Homo sapiens: one gene and its partners. The protein of the gene in region 2 purifies or fractionates together with the protein of the main gene of each other region. This does not show direct contact. Each region holds a gene or a part of one and is shown on either strand. Other genes may lie near its edges.

Region 1 (3,500 bases), about 57 Mb from region 2:
TCATGAAGGCCGGCAGGCGGCCGGTGGCAGAAGCTCAGTGGTGGCGGGGGAGTCAGTCCCCAGGGAGCCCAATGGGCTGGGGGAAGGTCTGAACACTACAGCCTTCAAGGCAAAGGGAGGAGATATTTTGTCCAGAGAATAGGAGCCGGGGGCAGCCCCTGGGGCAGATGTGCTGAGGCAGGGGCAGGTGGTGTCCTGAGGCAGGGGCAGGTGTCCTGAGGCAGGGGCAGGCAGGTGCATGGGCCCTGATGGGTGAGGGGTTGGGGGAAGTGTGTTTCTTGGGGTTCTGCCTTGGCTGCCACTGGGATTGGGAGGGGCTGAGGCCCCAAGCCTTCAGGGTCTAGACAGAGGCCATGATGCCTGCTGTACCCAGAGAGAAGGCCAAGGCCTCACGGCCTCCGAGGCCCTACATAGTGTGGCCCATACCCCAGACCTCATCTTTGCTGTTTCTTCCTCTCCCACCCCCGACAGCTATGCTGGCCTCCTTGCTGCTCCTCAAGCAGAAACACCCAGCACCTCCTGCCTCAGGGCCTTTGCACGTGCTGTGCCCGCTGCCATCTCCCCAGCATCCATGGGGAGCCTCCCCTCCATCTTCACGTCTCTGCTCTAAAGCCCCCTTCTCAGAGAAACCTTCCCTGACCCCCACATATACAACAGCACCCTGATCCTGGCCCCCTCTCTCCCCTTCACCCTGGGTGTGTCTCCAGGGCACATATTTCAACCCAATATGCTGTGTAATTATTATCTTTATTATTATTTTTGAGATGGAGTCTCACTGTGTTGCCCAAGCTGGAGTGCAGTGGTGTGACCTTGGCTCACTGCAACCTCCACCTCCCAGGTTCAAGCGATTCTCATGCCTCAGCCTCCTGAGTAGCTGGGATTACAGGTGCCCACCACCACATCCAGCTAATTTTTGTATTGTTAGTAGAGACGGGGTTTCGCCATGTTGGCCAGGATGGTCTTGAACTCCTGGCCTCAAGCGATCCGCCCACCTCGGCCTCCCAAAGTGCTGGGACTACAGGTGTGAGCCACCATGCCCGGCCTTGCTGTGCAATTATTTATTTGCTGTTTTATTGTCTCCGATAGAAGGTCATCTTCGTAGGCATGGGAACTGTGTTTTATTCTCTGCTATATCCCCAGAGCCTAGAACAGTACCTGGCACATAGTAGGTGCTCAGCAAATAGTTGCTGCATGAATACAGAAATAAGTGACTGGATGAATGTGCAAGGGTGGCTCTGGCCTAGGGGAGGAGCTGCTTTTAGCCCCGCTTCATGGAGGGCGCAGGTGTCTTCATCCCCTGCTGTCCCAGCTGCCCTCCATGCCCCCCTGCCCCAGTGCACCCTCTCATACCCCCAACCCCAGCCCACCTTGTGCAGGTCCTGGGCCAGTGCGTCGTGCAGAAGCTGCTTGTTTTCTTGCAGGAAGCGGCCCAGGCCTTGGAGCTGCGCAGCCCGGAACTCAGCTGGCCGCGTGCGCCCCGCGTGGAAGGCCTCCCGCAGTCGCCGCAGCGTGTCCCCAAGGGGGTCCATCCTGCCAGATGGGGTGGCATGAACTGGGTGGCCAGGGCTGCCCCTCCTTCATGGGCACCACCCAGCCGCCCCAGGGTCTGGGCACCCCTGACCTGCCTGCACCCACAGGGGCTTGCAGACACCTCTACCTTATACACACACAGGGACCCACTCAGATGACCCCACAGGGACTGAGGCTGCCTGCAACCCCTTTCACCCAACAGTGAGCACTCCCAGACACACATGAAGACCCTCGCACCACTCCCCTCTGCCATGGACCTGGAGGCGGCTGCAGGACTGGGTGTGGGCTTGGGGACAGCTGCTCCACCACAGCCCCCGAGGGTGAGCAGGCAGGCAGAGCGCCATGCTTCTTCCTGCCGCACAGAAATTAACCCCAAGCCATGGCCTCTGCCCTGCCCTGATGCCCCTCCTGGAGGCGGGGCAGCCTCACCCCTGCCAGTCTGAATGGTGTAAGCAGGAGCTTGATGAGTAGAGGGGGTGACTCACTGCCACCATGGCCACCACCTTGGAGCACTCCAGACACAGAATTCTCCGTCTTCCTCTGTCCCCAGCCTGGGGGCACTGCCCAGGGAGGCCAGGCCAGTGGGCAATAGCCTCTTCTCCCTGTGCCTCAGCTTCCTCAGGAAGAGGGGGAGAACACCTCGGGCCTCCTGGAGGCCCTGCTGCCCACCCTGCCGGGGCTGTGGTGCTGGGAGGCAGAAACAGCTGTGGGGGAGAGGATCAGGGCGGGGGAGAGGGCGTTCCTGCCTCCGTGCTGGTGCCAGCCAGAGCTGGCAGGCAGGGTAGGGGCCTAGACATTCCCCCGAGCCCTGCCTGTTTACTTGAAGTTCATCGGAGGAGCACTCTGACGCACTCGTTCCTCGGCCTGGTGCCAAGGACCCGTGGTGACCCTTTCCTCCTTCCCTCTCCGAGTCCCTTTCCTCCAGATCTCAGCTTGGCTGATGCTTCCTCCAGGCAGCCCACCCAGATTATGCCCTCATCCACTGTCACAGTGGCCCCTTGACTCTGCTCCCCAGCGTTCTGAGTTGTGCCATGTGATAAATGTCTGGTTACACTCTACCCACCTCCCAACCCTGTCCACATCTCCCTTATTTCCCCCTCATTAGACTGGGAGGCAGGCCCCTCTGTGCCTACTTATTTGAGACCTAGTGCTTGAAGCCTCTCATGTTACCGGTGTAATGATGGCACCTGCCAGCTAATGATGAGACCACACAGTCGGTTCTGAGCCCAGGGCCCAGCATCGGTGAGCGCAAGGCTGTGGGTGATTGTTAAGTGGCCACCTTGAGGGCGGGACCTGCTCCGGTCTGCAGGATGGCCCTGCTGGACCAGTGTGCTACTGAGAGCCTGGTCAGGAGCCCCAGGCCAGCCCTCAGCTGGAGTGATTGTGGGGCCAGGCTGAACCCACCATCTTCCTGCTCTGATTGGGAGAAGCTGGGCAGTGGCCCGCACACAGGACAGGCACCATGGTCCCCATAGGGGATGGCTCGTCACGGGAGCAGGACTGAGACCCAGGAGCCAAGAACGAGCCTCTCGAGCCACCATCAGGCCTGTCTCCGGGCTCTGCCTCTTACTGGTTGTGGGACCTTGGGCAAATCACTCACCTTCTCTGCCTCGGTTTCCTCATCTGTGAAATGGGGATGCTAATGGCACCTGGTGTCATTGTGAGGATTAAATGACATCACGCTGCATAAAACATTTGCTGTTGTGCCCACAGAAAGTACTCGACAAAGGTCAGCTCTGGGTGTTTTGCTAAGTAGCCTGCAAATATTTATCTCCCTCAACTCCGCACTCTCCTGGGTCCTTCTCCATTCTACTCTCACCTTCAGACTTCTGCCAGTGGTCAAAGGCAAACCACGCCTGTGCCTCTCTCACCCTTTGTAAGAATCTCTGCAGAAACCACAAAAATGCAAGGCACGTAACGTGAATGGTGGACTGTGGGCCGGGAGCTCTGTGGGGGATGGAGTTCTGCAG
Region 2 (2,501 bases):
ATCCTGAGGTATAGGCAGGAGCCCTGGCTCAGGCTGAGTCATCTCAGGACTCCTGTCCTTCAAGAAACCTTGTCTTCACTGCTTCTTCCAACCTCCTTTTTGCTCCCACAACCTGTGCAAACATCATCACCCTATTTCTCACACCACAGGAACAACAAATTTATCTTTACTCAATTTTTGAAGACAAGAAGGGAACTTTATCTCTGCATTCTCACCTCAATGGCTAATATAGCACATTTAATAATACTTGTTGACTACAATAATTAAAGCTCTTACAAACCACTACATAAAAATATTAGTGTTAATTACTGAATTACTGAAAATAAAAATACATGCTGGTACCTTAGTTTTCTTGCATCTTTAAAATAAACACTCCACGAATCTGTAAGAATTATAAAAGTCTTGAGGCTTAATGTAGGATTTTTCAAATATTTGCATAATTTATGCTACACTGCCATGCACAAATATATCGAACAAAAAAAGACACGAAGTTACCCATAAAAGTTGGTAAAAGAATTTTATTATTATGTGGCTTAGGTAGGTTTTTGCATTCTACTAACAGAAAAGCATTTTCCACACCTTATTCAACCTAACACATTATACATTTGTGATTTTATCTACATCGCTGCAGTATTACACTATTGAAAACCTTCCTTTCAAATGTACTTTGGTGCAATTATACAGTAGATATCTCTGCCTTCAGAAAATAAAAATATTCTCAATCTAAACTCAAAATGGAATAAAGACATCAATACCAAGTTTGTGCACCACTTGGTAAAAGATTGCAATAAAAATCAGAAGAGTATGCTGCTTAACATATAAAGAAGATGAGACATCTGCCACAGTTTCAGTCAAACCTTTGTAGGAATGATTTAGCATCTGGGTTTATTTTTACTGCAGTTTTCACATATGATAGGTGGAATTGTACCACAAAGAATAGTCTCATTTGCACGAGAGACTCAAATATTGGACTCTAGCACAGGAAATGTCTCTTGGGGCTTAGTAATATACAAACTGATAGAAAAGAAAATTGCCTTAAGAAAAATTTCACAATTGACTAAACATCTGAAACATTTTTATCACAGCTTTCATATATTAAAAAAGTTTCCTCCAGAGATGAAGCTTATTGATGAAATAAAACCTAGTCACTATCATCTGACCCATGTTCTGAGCCTCTATCTGAGGCCTCATTGTTGGATCCCTCTGGTTCCGATTCATTTCCAGAGCCTTGGCCAGAACCCTCATTATCAGATCCTCTCTCCGATTCGTGATCTGATTCGGCACTTGGAGAAGCTGGGCGAGAGTCGTTCTCAGAAACTCCTGAGTGGCTTCTCCCTGACTGCACAGATTCATTGTCAGACTGCTCAGAACCGGAGGGCCTTCTCTTTCTGGATGGCTGGTCACTGTCTGAGTCCTGATCTGACCGCTGTCTTCGTGGCCTCCGGGGACTGCCGGCCTCGCTGCCAGACTTGTTCTGGTTCTCATCGGAATCACTCTCTGATGAGGCACATTTCTTTCGTTGTTCGTCCTCGTCTGAGTCACTGTTGCTGTTGCTGTTCCTGGGATGTCTGGCAAAGATGATCATTGGTTAGAAGCTGAGGATTCTGGCTAACTGGGGCCTTGATGAGCAGACAATGTGCTTTTAAAACAGAAGGGCATTTAATATTCTATTTCTTGACCTAAATAGTGGTTACACAGGTATCATTCTGTGATACTTGTTTTGTGTACTATTCTGTAAATGTGATATATTTCACAACTCAAAAAGGTTTAAAAAGGAAAAAAAGATAAGGCACTTTAGCTATAAGTCAAAATATAAACAGGGATGGTGACTCACTGGACACTTTTCATCAGAATGAAGCATTTCCCAATTTCATATATAAAATTATGAAAAGGAAGGGATACATTTGTTTATCTCTGTACACAAATTAACAGCAACAAAGGTGAAATCCAGGATCTCAACTGGCTTGAAGACTTTGAAGAATTAACCCTTTTCCAAAGGCAGAAAAGGGTTTCAAAGGACATTTCCCTGTCCTATTGCCATCGGTGCTAACAGGTACCTGAAGAGTGAGGTCATTATTCCTGTCCTAAGATTTGCTACTGCACTAGGTCCCCTCCACCATGACCAGACTTGCTCAAGATAGGGAACTGGGGCTAAAGGGGCCCTTTGGTTTATTTCCCTTTGCTCCCAAGCTCTCCCCTCTACTTGTCAGTTGATAAGTGAAAGGAAAGGGGAAGTCATGCTTATGCTTAGAATGGTGGCAGCACCCTCAGAGTCTTGGCTTCCTGGAGGCTCTGAGGAAAGAACATTCCCTTAACCACGGTGACCGCTCCTTTGGAGCAGGCACACTTCTCTGGCACGTTCCTTAGTTCTGGTTTTCATGACAGATATTCCAATAAAGGAATACTGAATCCCACAGAGTTCGGTCTAGGAACGGTGAGGGAGGTGAAATATATTACTCTCTTTCTGTATACATATTAAAGACCTGTGGGTCTTCCCTGGG
Region 3 (3,500 bases), on a different chromosome or scaffold from region 2:
TAAGAAAAACACACACACACATACAAAAATGCCTGAGGACTTGACAGGATATATAACATATCAATGCCACATTGATTATTAGGCCACATTTAATGTATTAAGTCCTCTCACATTTAAATTTGGATTCATCACAGCTAAACTTAGAATTAGTATGTTAAAAGGTGATATTAAATCTGGAATCTGTTGATTCCAAAATGTGCCTAAAATCAATCCTCTAAAAAGGATCAACAACTTCAAATTAATCAGTGGATTTTGAAAAAGGTCATGACATCCAAAAGAATATCCCTATACTAGCCAGGTGCAGTGGCCCATGCCTGCAATCCCAGCACTTTGGGAGACTGAGGTGGGAAGACAGCTTGAGGCCAGGAGTTTGAGACCAGCCTGGGCAACAGAGCGAGATCTCCCGTCTCTAAAAAATAAATATATATAAAAATGTTTGAAAGAATATCTCTATATTGGATAACTACCAGATCATCCATTCATTCAATAAGTTTACTGAAACTGCTTTAGAGAATATACAGAAAAGGGAATCTCTGTCCTTGTTAAGCTTAACAGATAAGAAATAAAAAGATATGGCCTGGCACAGTGGCTCATGGCTATAATTCCAGCACTTGGTAGGCCAAGGCGGGTGGATCGTGAGGTCAGGAATTCAAGACCAGGCTGGCCAAGATGGTGAAACCCCGTCTCTACTAAAAATACAAAAATCAGCTGGGTGTGGTGGCAGGCGCCTGTAATCCCAGCTACTCGGGAGGCTGAGACAGGAGAATTGCTGGAACCCAGGAGGCGGAGGTTGCAGTGAGCTGAGATCGCGCAGCCACTGCACTCCAGCCTGGGGGAAAGAGAGAGATTCCAGGTCTCAAAAAAATAAAAAAAGATATAACTTAAAAGATAAGGCTGGACGCGGTGGCTCACACCTGTAATCCCAGCACTCTGGAAGGATGAGGCGGGCAGATCATAAGGTCAACAGTTGAAGCCAAGCCTGGCCAACATAGTGAAACCCTGTCTATACTAAAAATACAAAAATTAGCTGGGTGTGGTGGCGGGTGCCTGTAGTCCCAGCTACTTGGGAGGTTGAGACAGGAGAATCGCTTGAACCTGGGAGGTGGAGGTTGCAGTGAGCTCAGATGGCGCCATTGCACTCCAGCCTGGGTGACAGAGTGAGACTCCATCTCAAAAATAAATAAATAAATATATAAATAAATAAAAGTTAAAAGGAGGGGAAAATATATATTAACCTATACATGAAGAGTGGACAAACTGATTTGAGAGTTTCTTTTTTTGATTTGAGATTCACTTCACCCCAAATTTCAAGTCTTTATCATAATAAAAGGGAAGAATTATAGAAAACCTTCAGAACTGGCAAAATGGCTAGGAATTTCCTCTTCAAATTTCACTTTTTAACTACTCACTACCTTCTATTCTGGTGCTATCAGATAGCCTCGTTAAATGCTAACAGGCTTCTCTCTCTTTTAATAAGAAGGATATACTCCTTGCAATCAGAGCCAGAGCAAAGCTCCAGGGCATGACTAGAGGTACAGGGGCTAAGGGCAGAAGAAAGCCAACCTGGGTGGATCATCAGCAAAAATCTTTTTCTTTTTGTTTTGAGACGGAGTCTCATTCTGTCGCCCAGGCTGGAGTGCAGTGGCACGATCTCGGCTCACTGCAAGCTCCACCTCCTGGGTTCATGCCATTCTCCTGTCTCAGCCTCCCGAGTAGCTGGGACTACAGGCGCCCACCGCCACGCCCGGCTAATTTTTTTTGTATTTTTAGTAGAGACGGGGTTTCACCATGTTAGCCAGGATGGTCTTGATCTGCTGACCTCGTGATCCGCCCATCTTGGCCTCCCAAAGTGCTGGGATTACAGGCGTTGAGCCACGGCACCTGGCCCACAAAAATCTTAATTCACAAATCCAAAAAGTTTCCTGTGCAGTTACTCCCAATACTGTTTCTGCCAGTTTCTTACATTTCAGGAGCTATGTCTAGCTTCATAAACTCTCTTTCTACAGCATTAAAAAAGTAATAATAAATCTGAAAACCCACCATTCTAAGGATACGAAATAAGCATCCTCAAAAGCATAATCTTTTTCTTTTTGAGATGGAGTTTCGCTCTTGTTGCCTAGGCTGAAGTGCAATAGCGATCTCGGCTCACCACAACCTCGGCCTCCCCAGTTCAAGTGATTGCCTCAGCCTCCTGAGTAGCTGGGATTACAGGCATGAAACTCCACGCCTGGCTAATTTTTGTATTAGTAGAGATGGGGTTTCTCCATGTTGGTCTCAAACTCCCGACCTCAGGTGATCCGCCCGCCTCAGCCTCCTAAAGTTGTGGGATTATAGGCTTAAGCCACCGTGCCCAGCAGGATAATCTTTTCCTTAAAAAAAAAAAAAAATAAAAAAAAAAAAAAAAAAAAAAAGCAGGGAAATACTTGACTCACAAATCCATTTGAAGTATACAGCCGGTGCAGTGGCTCACACCTGTAATCCCAACACTTTGGGAGGCTGAGGCGGGCAGATCACCTGAGGTCAGGAGTTCAAAACCAGCCTGGCCAACGTGGTGAAACCTCGTCTCTACTAAAAATACAAAAATTAGCCAGGTGTGGTGGCACATGCATGTAATCCCAGCTACTTGGGAGGCTGAGGAAAGAGGATTGCTTGAATCTGCGAGGCGGAGGTTGCAAAGGGCCAAGATCGTGCCATTGCACTCCATCCTGGGCAACAAGAGCGAAACTCCATCTCAAAAAAAAAAAAATCAATCCATATGAAGTACTCATCAAGTTTATCCCTATTACCTTGGCGTTTTATTAAGTAAATACAGTCCTTCCTAGAACTGGGATATCACTATGCATTCAATTCCAAGTCATTTATAATAATGTTAAATAGGACCATTTCAAATAGCTACACTGAAAAGATCACTATTTATAATTCTGTACAAAAAAATAAAATTTCTTTATTAGTATAATTTTATTCTTCCTGTTCTTTGTAAAATTTTTTTTACCTTTTTTTTTTTTTTTGTAGAAACGGGGTCTCACCGTGTTGCCCAGGCTGGTCTCCAACTCCTGGGCTCAATCAGTCCTCCCACCTGAACCTCCCAAGGTGCTGTGATTATACATAAGAATGAGCCACCATGCATAGCCTATTTTTCATGTTCTTAAAAGTCATTTTCCCAGTTATTATTACATAATGTGCTTTCCCCTCCAACTGCTGACTGGAATTTTATCAAAGGCTTTTGGAAAATCTAAGTAACTTACATTTACTTCTTTTGCTGTGACCATATTTTATAAACTACTTCAAAATTAATGCCAGGAATGGCGGCTCATGACTGTAATCCCAACATTTTAGAAGGCGGAGGCGGAAGGATCCCTTGAACCCTGGAGTTTGAGACCAGGCTGGACAACACAGGGAGACCCCATCTTCACAAAAAAAATTTTAAAAATTACCAGATATGTTGGCAAGCCTGTGGTCCCAGTTACTTGGGAGGCTACGGCAGGAGGACTGCTTGAGCC
Region 4 (3,500 bases), on a different chromosome or scaffold from region 2:
TAGTCCCAGCTACTCGGGAGGCTGAGGCAGGGGAATTGCTTGAACCTCGCAGGTGGAGATTGCAGTGAGCCAAGATTGCGCCACTGTACTCCAGCCTGGTGAAAGAGCAAGACTCCATCTCAAAAAAAAGAAAAAACAAAAATTAGCTGGATGTGGTGGCAGGCACCTGGAATCCCAGCTACTCAGGAGGCTAAGGCAGGAGAATCACTTGAATCCAGGAGACGGAGGTTGCAGTGAGCCAAGATTGCGCCACCAAACTCCAGCCTGGGTGACAGCAAGACTCCATGTCACGAAAAAAAAAAAAAAAAAACACATGCTCTTCGAAGCAATCAGGCACTGCAACCATGGATGGGTCCATTTCTACAAACCATTACAGAATGGGGGCCATGCCACCAGGTCAAACGCCCTCACCCAGAGCCAGGCAGTTAGGAAGCCACCACAGGGCTTCCAGGAGGGCAACTGCTATGGTGTGGGTGCCTTGTGTGCTTGCGCTCTTCAGGGGCCCTGCTCCACTTCTGATGCTCCTCAGGTGAGCTCGGTGCCAGGACTACAGCGACACGGACCTCTCACTGCTGCACCCTTCAAAGTCCAGCAGACAACCCCTCGCCCTGGGGTAGGAGCTCCTCTACTCAGCTCCTCACAGCACCTGCCATCAGTGGGGCTGGGGAGGGGAACGTTGCCCATGTCACATCAACTCACGGCTGGCCCCACACAGAAAGGGTCAGCTTACTGGGAACTAACTGGACCCTGAAATAAACGGAAAGAACCACAGCCTGCAAATACCTCTAAGCCTCACTCAAAGCAGGTCATGTTTGCTCATGACCAAATTCCGGAAGACTGGGAGGCATCGGGACAGACTCCAGAAAGGTACTGGTGGCAGGGGACTGGTCTGCTGAGTCACAGCAACCCCACGCTCCAGGCCGTTTGTTCCTGCTGCTCCCTTTGGGATTAACTAGAGATTGAACCGGCTCACCTTGTTTCAGCTCAGGCCCTGCAACCGACCGACCGTCTGCTGGGCTCCAAGTCACCTGAGAGGCGAGGTGAGGTAAGACGGACAGTAGGGGTGGGGTAAGGCAGGCCGCTCTCTCCCATGGTGACAGGGAGCTAAGCTGAGCTGAGCCGGACTGAGCTGCTCTCCTCAGGACTCAGGGGTAGCCCTGCCCTCCCAGCTGGCTGCGATGCTCTAGTGGGACTTTCTGGAGGAACAAACATGGGAAGACATCGGGAAACCTGACAGCTTGGTCAAGAGTCTACTCGTGCCATGTGGGTGGGGGCAATTCAAGGGGTCCTTAGTGAAAAGCAGTTGGGAGCTTCTCATCTTCCCCACGCCCTCCTCTTTCCTGAGGACCACAGCAGGGGAGGGATCTGCCCAAGGACACAAGGTGACTTAGTAGAAGCAGGGCATGATGAAGATCTCTAGCCACCAACATCTGGCTAGGCCAGGGCAAAGGGACCTGGGCCATGACCTGTCTGTTTTATAAACCGAAATCGCTGCAGCCCTTGTCTTGGCATGAGGGTTTCATGGTAGAGCACGATGCCTGCTGGAGGGCCAGCGGGGGTGGGCCATCCCATCCCCAAGGGTCACTGGGGTTAAGGACCTGCCCAGACTCCCTGGGTGGAGCCCTGGGCCTTGGCAGGGGCCCAGCTGGTTCCTGGCCACTGGGGCCAGAGAACCTGGGGGCTGCTGAGTTAGTTCAGCTGAAAAACCAACAAAAGGGCCTCCCTGCTATACCCGGGGGCTCATGAGTCACCGGGGCTTTGGGGGAGTGCCAACATCATCATGACACAGCAAGAATCTTATCAGACCAATGGGGAAGTCAGCCCAGAAATGTTCTGAGGAAAGGGGAGGCGGGGGCCGCTGGGTCATCCCTCCCACAGGCCCATCATTGGGATGCGTCCTGAACGCCCATCAAGCCCATGGCCCTTGTGATCCAGGTGGGGAAACTAAGGCCCAGAGAAGTGAGGACCCCGCAGACTATCAATCCCAGTCTCTTCCCCTCACTCCCTGTGAAGCTCTCCAGCATCATCGAGGTCCCATCAGGTGGGGAAAGATGCTGTTCCAGGCGCACACTAGTCTACAAGGCCAGAGCTTTCTGGAAGGGGGCAGTAAGTACCTCGGCTCCCTTTCTGGTAGGGGTGGGAGTCCTGAGAAGGCAGGAAGTGGCCCACTTGGTAACTCTGAGGTGCCATCAGGGCCCCCAGGAAGGAAGCTGGGTGTGTGGGCAAGTGTGAGGTAAGCTGGCCAGGGAGGAGGAAGGGACAGAGGAAGGCCACGTGGGTCCAGCCTGCCCCAGGGTGTCCTGCTTGCCCAGGCTGTGGGTCTGCCAGCCACTTGCCTGCTTTCAGTTTCTAGGTCATGCTGAGCTTGTTCCCAACTCGGGGCTCCGGGCATTTGCTCTTCCTTCTGTGTTTGTGCTCTCCCGGCCCTCTTTGTGGGATCTATGCGCTTTGGGGGACTGGGGACACAGGGCCCATGTGTATCTTCTGAAACACACGTCAGCCTGAACTCTTGCTGGTCTGCTTACTTGCCGTGGTTCCCTGGCCGCAATAGCACATAGGTCCCATGAGGAGGGCAGGGACTGGCTGCTGTGGCCCAGAAGTACCCAATCGCTGTCTGCTCAATGAACGGAGAATGGGCTGCTTTCCTGGAACAGCAGATTCTAGGATCACGTGCCCTCAAGTGCCACCCTGCCTACCTCCCGCACCGAGTGAGGCATCAGGCGTGGAAGAAGCCTGGGAGCCGGAGCTGTTCCAGGTGCTGCCTGAGCACGCCACCTCCCATCTCCCCCACAGCAGGAAGAGGAAAAAACAAACCACGAGGCTCTTCAGAGAGAGGACCCCTTGTCCCCTACCCACAGTGCTGGAGCTGGCACTTCCTATTTCTGCTTTGAAAGCCTCAGGTTGTCACTCTCAGAACAGAGGAGAGCAAAGGGGAACCCTACTGATTTCAACAAAACAAAGTTGCCCAACCCGAAGCTGGCCACAGGCGGAGGCAGTGAAATGACAAAATCAGCTTGGAAAAGCCTAAGGACCCTGGGCCCTCGTTTCAAAAGCTGTCATTTGCTACACGAAATGCTGAGGTTCAGGAAAAGGAAGACACTTGCTCCAACTCACACAGCAAGCTTGGATGCTCTCAATGAGGTGTCTAATAAGAGCTGAAGGCCAGGAGTCATAAGCTATCATTGTGGCCTGGGTTGCTCTGTTGCAGTGCCTTGTGACAGCATGGGGTGGGGATGGAGAAAGCAACCTCAGTTACCTTCTCCTCCAGTCTGCTTCTTGGACTAAGGGTTTAACGGTCAGAGTCCTGGCTGTTAAGGTTTGTGGCTGATGCAGGTATGGCTCTTTTTATTTTTATTTTTTTGAGATGGAGTCTCACTCACTCCGTCACCCAGGATGGAGTGCAATGGTGCCATCTCAGCTCACTGCAACCTCCACCTCCTGGGTTCAAGCGATTTTCCTGCCTCAGCCTCCCAAGTAGCTGGGATTACAGATGGGTGCCA
Region 5 (3,500 bases), on a different chromosome or scaffold from region 2:
CATAGACTTCTCTCACAACTCTAGTTTTGCTAATCACTTAGTTATACGTCAGTGAACAGCAAATAAATGATATTTTAATTTTCATTATAGATGAAAATCTCATAAAATTATTCTACTTGCCCTCTCAAAAAAGAGATACTAATCCATGCCATTTTAATCCTCGAGAGGTTGTGATTTTGAAAAACACCTGTTTAAACTGATTTTTTAAATAGTGCACGTTCATTAAGAAACATAGAAAAATTAAAAAAAAAAAAAAGAGCAACAGTAGTACCATCTCAAATATTCAATCTGAGTACCTTACCTGTATTATTATTTTTAGTCTATTAAGTCTATTTCATTCCAATCAACATGTAGAGAAAAATAATGGATGTTAATATTTTGCTATCATAAGAAGTTCAAATGAAAGGCACACATTGAATTCTTACAAATACACTATATCCTATTTCAGCTATGCTTCTGCTTCATTGCTCTGTATCTTTTGCACCAATTGTAACTATGATGAAGGCTACATAAACAAGCATATATGATAAAATCTGCTTATGATAAAAACATAGTAGAAGCAAATTTTTTACTTTGAGATCTTTTCAGGGCTTGCACACCGAAAAAAAGTTTCCGTTGTGTATTTTTATAATGGAAAAAAAACTGGATGATCCAATATACATCTATTAATAGGAGGACCAGAGAGATTTGTAGAAAGAGAAAGGAAAAAAAATCCAAAGATAAATGATTGAATTTTCAGAATAAAAGATAGAACAGACTAATAAAAGATACAAATCTTCGCATTAAAAATGCATGAATCTTTTTTTGGGAAAAATAAGTAACAAATCTAATATGCAGAATATCAAAGGCAAATAGGAAAATAAAAGACAAGAAAATGGAATAATGTTTCCAAATCATTAAAATAAACATGGATTGAGAATCTGAAGTATTCTTAATACTTTCTGGGTCCAGATCTTTAGGAAATTACAGTGAGTTTCTAAAATGAGTTCTACGGTATGAAGTAAATTTCACATGCAACTGAATAGTAAGGATAGCTATTAATATAATTATAAGAACCATCCAAAATCAGTCATCCTGTCATCCCTATACTCCTATATTCCCAAGTTATTAAGATTTTCTGATATTACAACTAGGGAGATCATTAAAGTTTAAAAATATATAGGGGGAGTTACAGGAGATAAAGAAATGGCATAATACCCTCAGGTGGTCACAGAAAGATAAATGTTAAAGATTTATCTTTAAATTGTGTAATGGTGTAAATTAACTTCATAAAATGCCATGAACTAAGAATTTAGAAGAGTCTCCTTTTGGCAACAATTTTCATAAAGAAAGAAATATGAAATAATCAGGATTTTTCTAAAATGAAGTAGTCAGTTGAACAAAATGACATACTCTTTATGCTTTTTCCTTTTGACCTCACTTGATGAGTCATCGGAATCTTCACTGCTAGAGGAATCCTGTAGAAAAGAAATAAAGTCAGTATCATCCACTAATGATTAGAATTTAACCATATTAAATTTTTATTTGCTATACTATTTAACATTCACTTTACAAATAACAGCACTTGTGAAGCCTTTTTTCAATGTAGTTTTATTTATGTTAACTAGCTGAAAGTAATAACATTTTTATTGCAAATTAATATAGCCAGTGAAATTAAGTAAATAGCAAAATGTCAGCACTTTGTATGAAACCTTAAAATCTACCCTCACTGGAGACCATTATTGTTGCCTAGTATAGCCAAAACAAGAAATCCTAGGTGCCAACATGCCAAATTTTGAATTTTTTCTTCACCATTACTTTTTGTTATAATTTTTCCTGAATGTTTTTGTGCAAACATACATGTATGCATGCTTGCACACACACACAAACTACATTGTGTATAGTGGCCATCTACTCTTTCAAAAATATTATGTTGAGATTTCTGTTATTATTTCGTACAAATATGATTTAATGATATAATATTCCTTCATTCATACATGTATATGCGTGTAGGTGCATATCACATTTAATTATTTCCCACAGAGTTCACATTTAGTTTATTTCTAATTTTGCTGTAATGAGCAAATGCACACAAATGTCCCACTGCTTATTTTGGATTAATCCCTAAAATTGGAATTACTGGATAATGCAAAATCTGTATTTCAAGATTCTTGATATATACACTTAAAGTATTTCCTACTTATTCTTTCAAAGCACTTATTATTTTTAATAATTTCACAAATACTAGTTAACTGATTCAGCAGCATGTCCACTTTTAAAATAATAGCTCATGATGAAAATGCACCTCTTCTGATCCGCTATTAGATGAGGCTTGATGTTGTTGTTGCTGCTGCTGCTGTTGCTGCTTCTTGAGGATTGCAGATCTCTGAACGGCCAGAATACTAGGACTAGATTTCCAAAACTATAATAGAAATATAAACCAGTGAATGAAGAAGTATTAAGAAAACTGCAAAAAAAGGTTAATTTATTGAAAAACTATACCACCATCTTTACTGCCTCAAAGTAATAAAGACTATATTCCTTACCTATATGTAACACAATTATCATTGCAATATAGTTAAATAAAATGCTGAGCTCTAGTTATGTATAAAAAAAAATGGTGTGTTGAGTTCCACAGACAATATTAATCAATATCCTCTTGATGCTAAGAGTATTATTTGTATTAGTGCTACTCATAGTGTGGTTACCTATTTTATCAGTGTGAGGTGAAGAGGCTGAGTCAGAATATACGTCAACGATGTCACTAGGCACATTGTTTTAGCTCAGATTTGAGCGGGGGGCCGGTAGCAACATTTTTCTCTATGAAGGAATCTGTGTGTCGATTTATATTCTGGCCCTCAAGCATCTTATCTCATCACAGACTGGTACTCTGAGTAACACTGTATACTACCACGAAGTATAGACAAGTTTTTGTATCTCTTGTAGTTTTTTCCAAACAGAATAGCCCCTTACCCTATTCCATCATTATCTTTGAGGAATCTGAGTTCCATTAAATTATTCTGCTAGTAGCAATAAAGTATCTCCTTTGAAGCTCTTGAAAGTAGAGATCATAACACGGTAAGGTTAACAAGTAGACCTCACAATGTCTTAAATTTGTATCTATGACACAATGGATATTTATGAAACTCAATTTCTGCCTAAGAGGCAGAAAACGTTTTATTTGCCTGTGTGTAATTTACACTTTGTGTTTTCTAGTTCGAAAATGCATCTATTCCAAGCCAATTAGTCCACAGGTGTACCACCATGAATGTGAGAATCACTAAAAGTAAATTTTAATTTAAAATGTTGTCTTCTCTAAAAGCTAGATTAAGAATGGTATAAACCAATCCTCTAAATTTTCCCAAAGTAATACAAGCAATCTACCTTTCATTGGGTATTTTATTGATTACCTCAGCTCCATCAACTTTCGGTGGTTTTGCTTGAACTTTGTTTTCTCGGGAAGTGTCTGACTCAGACTCTGACTGACTGCCTGATTCAGATCCGGAGTCAGAGTCACTGCT
Region 6 (4,179 bases), on a different chromosome or scaffold from region 2:
CTGTTAGCCAGAATTAATACAAGAACATAGGGCTTATCATTTTCTGTTGCTACAGAAAGGAACTGGTGATGTTTAATTTTCCCAAGAGTATGGAACTAACATAGGATGAGAAAAATAGGCCAAAGGGAGAGAGCTTCTGTTTTCTCACCTGCAGAGATGGGAGCACCAAGCCTAGCCTGACAGATCACTGGGCCAGTTCCCAGAGAAAGCCCTCACAATGAGCAGTTCCACACTTTCCTTGTACTGCCCTTCCTTCTTCAGGAAGCACCATATTTTCCCATCAACTAGAAGGTATCTTTCTGGCCTCTGAACTCCAAAGAGTGTATCAGACACAGCTGCTGCCCCAGAGGAGTTGACAAGGCAACACATGGTAAGAGCTGCAGCCTGAAGAATAAAACATGTCACATGTCCCCAGATTGAGAAGGGGTGAAGGGAGAGCCTGGCTGGGATCAGAGATAGTGGAGATGTACAAGTGTGTAATAGAGGAGTGCCTTGAAAAGTAAACACACCACAAAATGTTTATTTTTAAAGAATAAATAAATGGCAAAGGAAACGCAGGAAAGGAAAGATTTACAAAATCCAAGTCACTAAAGTGCTTTCAATCACAAATTTTGAAAGACCAAAAGCCTGGTCTGACCTAAAAACACTGTTTCCAGCTATCCAACAATTGTTTAAATATGATCCCATGCTATTTTTAAAGGAAATGCAGAAACGACTAGAGTATGGGTTTCTTTGAATTCCAATATGCATAGCCTATCAAGTGACACTCAAGAAAACACAAAATTACTCCCTAACAAGAAAATTGAAATATCCAAGGCCAAGTTCAAGGTAAAGACAATATAATTCATTCATGTGTCTGTATGGAGTCTTCACTATGATGATATCAGATTCTTCTGGATATTAAACAATTTTATATTTCCTAATTGAGAATGAGGACATCAGACCTAACCTATTCATCTATACAGTACATTGAACCACACATCTCAAATGATGCCCAGCAGTGAAATCATTTTTGAACTTCGGATCCTCCCTGCTCAAGCTACAAAAGAGAATCAAAAGTTTTGCACCAAGTTAACTGGTTAAAGTGCCATTAAGGAACCGTTTCCATTCTAGAATGAAATAGAATTTTCCCTAGGTCACTCATCTGTCCTCTTAAAGCAAGTGGCATTGCATTTTATCTTGACATTGTCAGAAGAAAATCAAACTGAGAGTATATGTCTTGGACAATTTTTGTCTTTTGGAAAATGCCAGTGAGGAATATGCACATTTTCAGCCTTTGACAGTGGGACCTGTGGGTCTCATGTGGCTCCCACCTTCCCTGGCTGGGGCCCCTCCAGTGCCGTGGAGTTGGAGCCTCCTTGAGCACCAGCCCCAGGGTGCACTTTCTTGGTCTCCTGCCGGGCAGAGCTGGAGAGGTCAATAGCCACATCTTCCAAGCCATTCTCAGGGCTCACTTTATCTGAGCCTCTCTGTGATCCTGACTCACTCTGGCTAGAACCTTCTTTGAAGTGGTCAGAGCCCCAGAGTCCTGCCAACTTATCTTCACTTCCTGGCTTCCTTATCATCCCCATGGATTTTTTATGCATCCCTTGTAAAAAAAAAAATAAAAAGGAAAAAATAAAAATAAAAATTTAAATTCAGCAATGAAGTAAATTTCCTTCTTATTGTTCTCTAAATCCCACTAGAATTGTCCTTGTCAGTGCCTATCTCTGGGGCCTACAGGAGAGGCAGGTAGGTAACTCCCACCTTAGGGGTTTAAAGCAGGTGTCTGACCCCGGGTCACATCCAGCAAAGGTGTTTAGGATGACACAGTGATTGGCATTGGGCCCACTTTCCCCTAGGCTGCGGTCTCGCAGATGCCAGTAAGTGCCCTCCCCCACCTGTTTGTGCAATTTCAGATGAGCCAGTTTGGGTCACTGCCTACAATGCTCCCTCTAGTGTTTCAGTCCTTGAGAGCAAAGTCAGGACATATCTATGATTGGAACCTCCAGTGCCCAGGATAGGGCTGCTTGGTAGCTGTTCAAAAACTGTTCGCTGAGCAAAAAACTTCCTCCATCTAAACCTAAAATGCCACCATGATCCTCCTAACTAATTACCCCGTGCCCGGAGGTACTCATCTGTGACTCATTCCCACAATCTGTGATCCCTGCCTGTTGGTTTCTGGCGACAGCAAACAGGGCAACAAGGGTGGAGCATCCTGAGAGTGCTGGGTCTCAGCAGCGGAGACTCTTTGAGCACCAAAAATCTAAGGGACAGAAAAGCCACTCGGCAGGTTGTTCATGGCAGAACCAAGCCCGGGGCCAGCCCTCCTGACTCAGATGGAGGGGCTCACTGTCCCCAGGGGTCGCTGCTCAGCACTGCCCTGTTTCCTATTACCAAGTGCCCTAAATTGTATGGTTTCTAAAAATTCTAACAGCATTCAACACTTGGATGCTGTTAATGCAATGATGTCATTTCACCCTTAAATCCCAAATACATATTTAGCATGCATAGCCCGGTGAGACTTCCACACAGCCTAGACAGTCTCTGTGAAAAATGAGGCAACCATCCAGTTGCTGCAAGCTTTGTTATTAATTAAAAATAATAAGAACGGTTCTGGACCTGAATCTCAGTAAACTGACGTTGCTTTGCTTTGGAAATGGCTGCCTCGGTGGGGACACCCTGGGATTCCCCCACCTCCTACAACACCTCGAGCCGTGCGATCCCGGGGGCCCTTCCTTACCCAGGAGCCAGGGCGCGCAGGAGCCCAGCAGGCCGCCCTCGGCGGAGTTGAGCACGGAGTCTGGCAGCGGGATGCAGTGGCGCACCATGGCCCCGTACAGCCCGTACTCGGCCATCACGCTGCTGCCGCCCCAGCGCTTCTCCCGCTTGCGCCATTTGGCCCTGCGGTTTTGAAACCAGACCTGGTTGGAGGCAGGAGAAGCAGAAGGCACACAGAAGAGACAGTGAAGAGGGGCGCCTGGAGGAGCGGAGGCGGCGTCCCAGGGCTCGGATCTTCTCTCCCGAGCATGATCCCATGCTATTTCTGAAGGAAATAGCTCCCGAGGGCCAACCAGCCGCCCTCAGGGAGAGCGCCCAGGAGCCCCCAGCAGCGCCCACGTGCGGTCCGGACTCACGGGCATTCAACGCAGTAGGGACACTTGTGACCACGTCCACTGAAGTTTCCATAGAGTCAGGAATGAAAAAAACTAAAGAATCAAACTCCCTTTTCCCACATTGTGTGAAGAGGTCAACTACAGTGTTTCCTGCTTTTTCTCATTAATTGGAATGAGCTCACTGGGGCACTGGCTCCTTCCGAGCTTAGGCTATTGGGTTGCTGGTGATATTTCTCATTAAAAACATTATGTTAATAAAGGACTATTATGAAATACGGTTTAGCTGTTAAAAAAAGAGTTAGTGACATATCTTCTGATAAAACCAAGAGGAAAATTCTATGTATGCATGTGAGTGTGTGTATATATGCATGTAGATATGTATATGCACATACATATTCAGGGGCAGATAATATACTCCACAAAGTAGAGAAAGGTCTCCTCAGGCATTTGTGTTGATTTCTTTCAGGGTTTGAGATGGAGAGGTAGTCTCTTTTTTTTTTTTTTCATTGACATATCTTTATAGTTTCTAGTTGCAGCACACATTATCATGTGATTTTAAAGAATGATTTGATACTAAATAATAATAAAATGAAAAAAGGCATGAGGGTCATAGGGGCAAGCTCTTGTGGTGCCTTCAGCTAAGGGACCCTCAGTTTCTATGCAAAGGGAGCGTGTTGGCTATAGAGAAGGGACTGCTGATTGGCTCACTGAATGTGGGAATGACACGTTCTCTGTGGTATCTTTGGAGCGGAGAAAAGGGACCCCAGACACCTGTATCCGGTCTTCGGGGAGCTCAGTTTTCACAGCCAGCATTTCTCGGGCATACACATCAGGGTAGTGGGCCTCGCTGAATGCCTTCTCCAACTCTTCCAGCTGGTGAGCAGTGAAAACTGTCCTGCAAGGACCCCAAAACACACAGGTGGGCACATGTCCCCTGGGGACAGCAGCCTCCCTGGCCTTAAGGACCACCGTGCCTGCTTCCTCTGCTGTCCAGACCCTAGAAGCCACTTCATGATAATGGAACACCCCACCTCTGAATGATTAGCTGATGTCCAGAAATTTGATTCAAACGAAAACAGTTCTT
Region 7 (3,500 bases), on a different chromosome or scaffold from region 2:
TCCCATCATTTATTTTCAAATACACATTTAACTAAAAGGTTAAAAAGCAGGTAGGGCGGATATTATACTCTCAATCTAAATACGTATTACAGAAATAACAACAGATTATAAACTGAACCTAATTTTAAAATATAACTAAGCTAGAACCCAAGCTAGCTCATCCAACTGCAAAATGTGTAGTGTGTGTTGTGTGTGTGTATGTAGGCTTCTATACACCTACAGATAATAGCACGGATAAACAAAACTCAAGAGCTGCCCTAATAAAGGGATGCAGAGAACTCAAACAACTGAAAAAGGATAAGGGTGCTGTTTTAGGTAGCACCTTTTCACACCTGGTCTCCTCTATCAAATGAAAATATGGTTTTTTTTCCAAACCAAAAAGCATTTTTAAGAATTGTCTACTTATGTAAACAGGTATTTCTCTTAGTTCACTAAGGAGAAAACACATTATTTCTGTGTACTAAAGTATTAAGTGCAAAAATAAGTCTATAATAGCAACTAAAAAAAAATTATAAGGTATAAAATGACTCCAATTTTTATGTCTTCCCAACTTCTAACTACAAAATCACATAATGACTTTGAAACTTTGTAACTTCTGAAAACATGCCAATGTAGGTGACATTTCCAACCCGGATGCTCCATTCTCCAGCTCATTCTCAAATGTTGGTTCTACTCAAACTACCTACAATTCAACAGAATCACAAACAGCCTGGATTCATAGATCACGGAAGGTACTTTTGGTAAGAAACAGCCCTTCAGCTTGGCAATCTGTGAATGGATACATATACAACAAAGAAACATCATTTAAAATGGGTACCTACGTTCTTTCCGGTGCTCAACTAAACCTACAGCCTGCTTTGCTGAGCACTTTGCAAACCAGTTGTCCCCCAGTAAAACAGTGACTTCATTAGTATGGACAAGTTTTCCTGGCATGAAGGCAAAAGGGCCAAATGGTACCTATTGTTTAAAAAAAAAGAAAAAAGGGAAAAAACATAAAACACTGAAAAGTACATTTTATAAAACACTTCGCATTAAAAGCCTTACATAACTGAATTTTTTTATTTATACATTGGGAAAAATAAAATGCCAGCTTCACAGAAATTCAACACTATATTAAAATTTTACTAGGAAAATCTAAAGAAAATTGCTTTATGTTCATAAATCAATGTTAAAACAGGAAAATAAATCCACACCATATTTACATATAGCTCTTAAAGAAAGTAGTACTGTCTCGGCATGTTTATACTTTTCATTCACTTGCAAATCTAAGTGAAAGCAACTAGTAGTGAAACATTGTCAATGCAAAATACTTTTGATAAAGAAAACTAAAAATTATTTTCAATAAAGTAGACACTTTTGCAAAGCAGGAATTAGTAAACAAATAGCTTTAATGGATCTATCTAGCTATATATACAAAATACTTGGACTAGTATAAAAGAACAAAGTCTTCATAAGAAAGAACATTCATGCAATGAAAGGCTCTAATCCAGGGCTCATGAACAGATCACTATGTCGATGTGAAGATCATTAAAACAAAAATTAGCAGCACGTTTTTATATAAAAATCAATGTCCTAAGGTTTAATTCTGTGAATTACAAAACATTATGGCCTATTCCTGCTCTGGCTAACAAGAAACGACTTAGTACCATATTTCTGTCATAATTACATTTTTTATATAGTAAGTTTCCATTTGAAATATGTCCAATTTTGTGCTAATATTTATGTCATTTGTGTCACCATATATATTCTGAAAAAAAAAGGTAAATACCAACAATTACTACAATTACTGTGTTCTTATAAAGTAAAACAAAACAAATCTTCCTTGCTACATAGTTACCTTGGACACAGTCCATCAGCCTGACATTCTGTGAACCGACACATAGTTAATATGTTTACAAGAAACAACTATTACTTTAAAAGAAACACACCAAACATACCATTATATTATAAGACAATTTATCAGGCAAGGTGCTGAGTCTTTCTCGAAGGGCATTATAGTCATTATCTACCTTCTTCCTGTTGACAGAAAACACCAAATACACACATTATTAACGATTTTTCTTTTTTTTTTTTTTTTTTTTTTTTTTTTTTTTTTTTTTTTTTTTTTTTTTTTTTTTTTGAGACAGAGTGTCGCTCCGTCGCCCAGGCTAAAGTGCAGTGGCGTGATCTCGGCTCACTGCACCCTCCACCTCCCGGGTTCAAGCAATTCTCCTGCCTCAGCCTCCTGAGTAGCTGGGATTACAAGTGTGCGCCACCATGCAAGGCTAGTTTTTGTATTTTCAGTAGAGAGGAGGTTTCACCATGTTGGTCAGGCTGGTCTTGAACTCCTGACCTCATGATCCTCCCACTTCAGCCTCCTGAAGTGCTAGAGTTACAGGCGTGAGCCACTGCACCTGGCCTCACTCAAAAGCTTTATTAAATCTCTTCTTTCAGTCGTGTGTGGTGGCTCACGCCTGTAATCCCAGCAATTTGGGAGGCCCAGTAGGCCAGGTATCATAAAACAAGCTAATCAAAAACATAATTTTAGCAAATTCAAGATTAATGTGGTTTTATTTTTAGTTTTAAAATCCTGTTTTTATACAGTTTAGCAATGGCATTATTCTACCATACATTTATTGAAGAATTAAGACTCTTCAGGGACTCTGGCATTTAGAAGCAGAATACTCAAATTTTGAGAATTACTGTTTTTTAAGATACAAGACTATCTGGACCAAATAAAATGTGAAAATTAAGGGAGACAGTAAAAGAGGGCCTGATATTTGGAGAGAAGAAGGGACTCAAGATGAAAAAAGAAGAGATTTATTTATTTTAAGACAGAGTCTCTCTCTGTTGCCCAGGCTGGAGTGCAGTGGCACAATCTCAGCTCACTGCAACCTCCACCTCCTGGGTTCAAGTGATTCCCCTGCCTTAGCCTCCTGAGTAGCTGAGACTACAGACGCATGACACCACGCCCAGCTAATTTTTGTATCTTCCATAGAGATTAGGTTTCTTCGCCACGTTGGCCAGGCTGGTCTCGAACTCCTGGCTTCAAGCGATCCCCCCACCGCAGCCTCCCAAAGTGCTGGGATTACAGGCATGAGCCACCACACCCGGCCGAAAGAAGAGATTTAATAAAGCTTTTGAGTGAATAGATACTGGCTGTGAAGTTGAAATCATGAACATGAAATTTGATCAGATGCTTTAGTCCTCATCAGAAAACCTTAGGCTGAAAAATGCATCATCAGCTCTTCAATTATTCATAATAATGTGATTAAGGTAAGAGAGAATCAACTGGGGGTAGAAGAAATTAAGTAGAGATAATACAAAAGGCGTTTCAATTTGGCCTAGGAGTCTGTTTCTTGTTACATCAAACAGAGCTACCAAATAAGTAATTTCAAACAACCAAAAGGTATATGTAACTCTGTAGGGGCAGAGATGATCGTATTTCCATGCTATGGGCCTTACTCAGCTCTTAACACCTGCTGGAAATGAACAGCCCTTCTTTTTGAGTAATACCAGGC

What was found.
Region 1: the proteins of CTR9 (region 2) and ALDH3B1 purify together in Homo sapiens (affinity purification with mass spectrometry; one large-scale study listed by BioGRID and IntAct). This does not show direct contact.
Region 3: the proteins of CTR9 (region 2) and CCNT1 purify together in Homo sapiens (co-immunoprecipitation; 2 studies listed by BioGRID and IntAct, with this or other methods). This does not show direct contact.
Region 4: the proteins of CTR9 (region 2) and G6PD purify together in Homo sapiens (affinity purification with mass spectrometry; one large-scale study listed by BioGRID and IntAct). This does not show direct contact.
Region 5: the proteins of CTR9 (region 2) and CHD1 fractionate together in Homo sapiens (co-fractionation; one large-scale study listed by BioGRID). This does not show direct contact.
Region 6: the proteins of CTR9 (region 2) and VSX1 purify together in Homo sapiens (co-immunoprecipitation; one large-scale study listed by IntAct). This does not show direct contact.
Region 7: the proteins of CTR9 (region 2) and URI1 purify together in Homo sapiens (co-immunoprecipitation; one study listed by IntAct). This does not show direct contact.

What each region holds. Positions count from the first base shown.
Region 1 is NC_000011.10:68,013,327-68,016,826, reverse strand, and holds part of ALDH3B1 (aldehyde dehydrogenase family 3 member B1), read right to left. Parts: intron 1,531-3,500; 5' UTR 1,530-1,530; coding exon 1,368-1,529; intron 1-1,367. UniProt on the Homo sapiens protein: Oxidizes medium and long chain saturated and unsaturated fatty aldehydes generated in the plasma membrane into non-toxic fatty acids. May have a protective role against the cytotoxicity induced by lipid peroxidation.
Region 2 is NC_000011.10:10,777,746-10,780,246, reverse strand, and holds the end of CTR9 (RNA polymerase-associated protein CTR9 homolog), read right to left. Parts: intron 1,569-2,501; coding exon 1,142-1,568; 3' UTR 501-1,141; downstream 1-500. UniProt on the Homo sapiens protein: Component of the PAF1 complex (PAF1C) which has multiple functions during transcription by RNA polymerase II and is implicated in regulation of development and maintenance of embryonic stem cell pluripotency.
Region 3 is NC_000012.12:48,710,208-48,713,707, forward strand, and holds part of CCNT1 (cyclin-T1), read right to left. Parts: intron 2,370-3,500; exon of another isoform or gene 2,044-2,369; coding exon of another isoform or gene 2,041-2,043; intron 1-2,040. UniProt on the Homo sapiens protein: Regulatory subunit of the cyclin-dependent kinase pair (CDK9/cyclin-T1) complex, also called positive transcription elongation factor B (P-TEFb), which facilitates the transition from abortive to productive elongation by phosphorylating the CTD (C-terminal domain) of the large subunit of RNA polymerase II (RNA Pol II).
Region 4 is NC_000023.11:154,540,347-154,543,846, forward strand, and holds part of G6PD (glucose-6-phosphate 1-dehydrogenase), read right to left. Parts: intron 2,107-3,500; coding exon of another isoform or gene 1,918-2,106; exon of another isoform or gene 1,866-1,917; intron 1,046-1,865; exon of another isoform or gene 892-1,045; intron 1-891. Other genes in the region: IKBKG (NF-kappa-B essential modulator), read left to right, coding at 1,918-2,106. UniProt on the Homo sapiens protein: Catalyzes the rate-limiting step of the oxidative pentose-phosphate pathway, which represents a route for the dissimilation of carbohydrates besides glycolysis.
Region 5 is NC_000005.10:98,901,508-98,905,007, forward strand, and holds part of CHD1 (chromodomain-helicase-DNA-binding protein 1), read right to left. Parts: coding exon 3,390-3,500; intron 2,402-3,389; coding exon 2,285-2,401; intron 1,458-2,284; coding exon 1,393-1,457; intron 1-1,392. UniProt on the Homo sapiens protein: ATP-dependent chromatin-remodeling factor which functions as substrate recognition component of the transcription regulatory histone acetylation (HAT) complex SAGA. Regulates polymerase II transcription.
Region 6 is NC_000020.11:25,074,963-25,079,141, forward strand, and holds the end of VSX1 (visual system homeobox 1), read right to left. Parts: intron 3,991-4,179; coding exon 3,867-3,990; coding exon of another isoform or gene 3,774-3,866; exon of another isoform or gene 3,581-3,773; intron 3,156-3,580; exon of another isoform or gene 2,904-3,155; coding exon 2,723-2,903; intron 1,589-2,722; coding exon 1,299-1,588; 3' UTR 501-1,298; downstream 1-500. UniProt on the Homo sapiens protein: Binds to the 37-bp core of the locus control region (LCR) of the red/green visual pigment gene cluster. May regulate the activity of the LCR and the cone opsin genes at earlier stages of development. Dispensable in early retinal development.
Region 7 is NC_000019.10:29,983,739-29,987,238, reverse strand, and holds part of URI1 (unconventional prefoldin RPB5 interactor 1), read right to left. Parts: intron 2,017-3,500; coding exon 1,938-2,016; intron 958-1,937; coding exon 822-957; intron 1-821. UniProt on the Homo sapiens protein: Involved in gene transcription regulation. Acts as a transcriptional repressor in concert with the corepressor UXT to regulate androgen receptor (AR) transcription.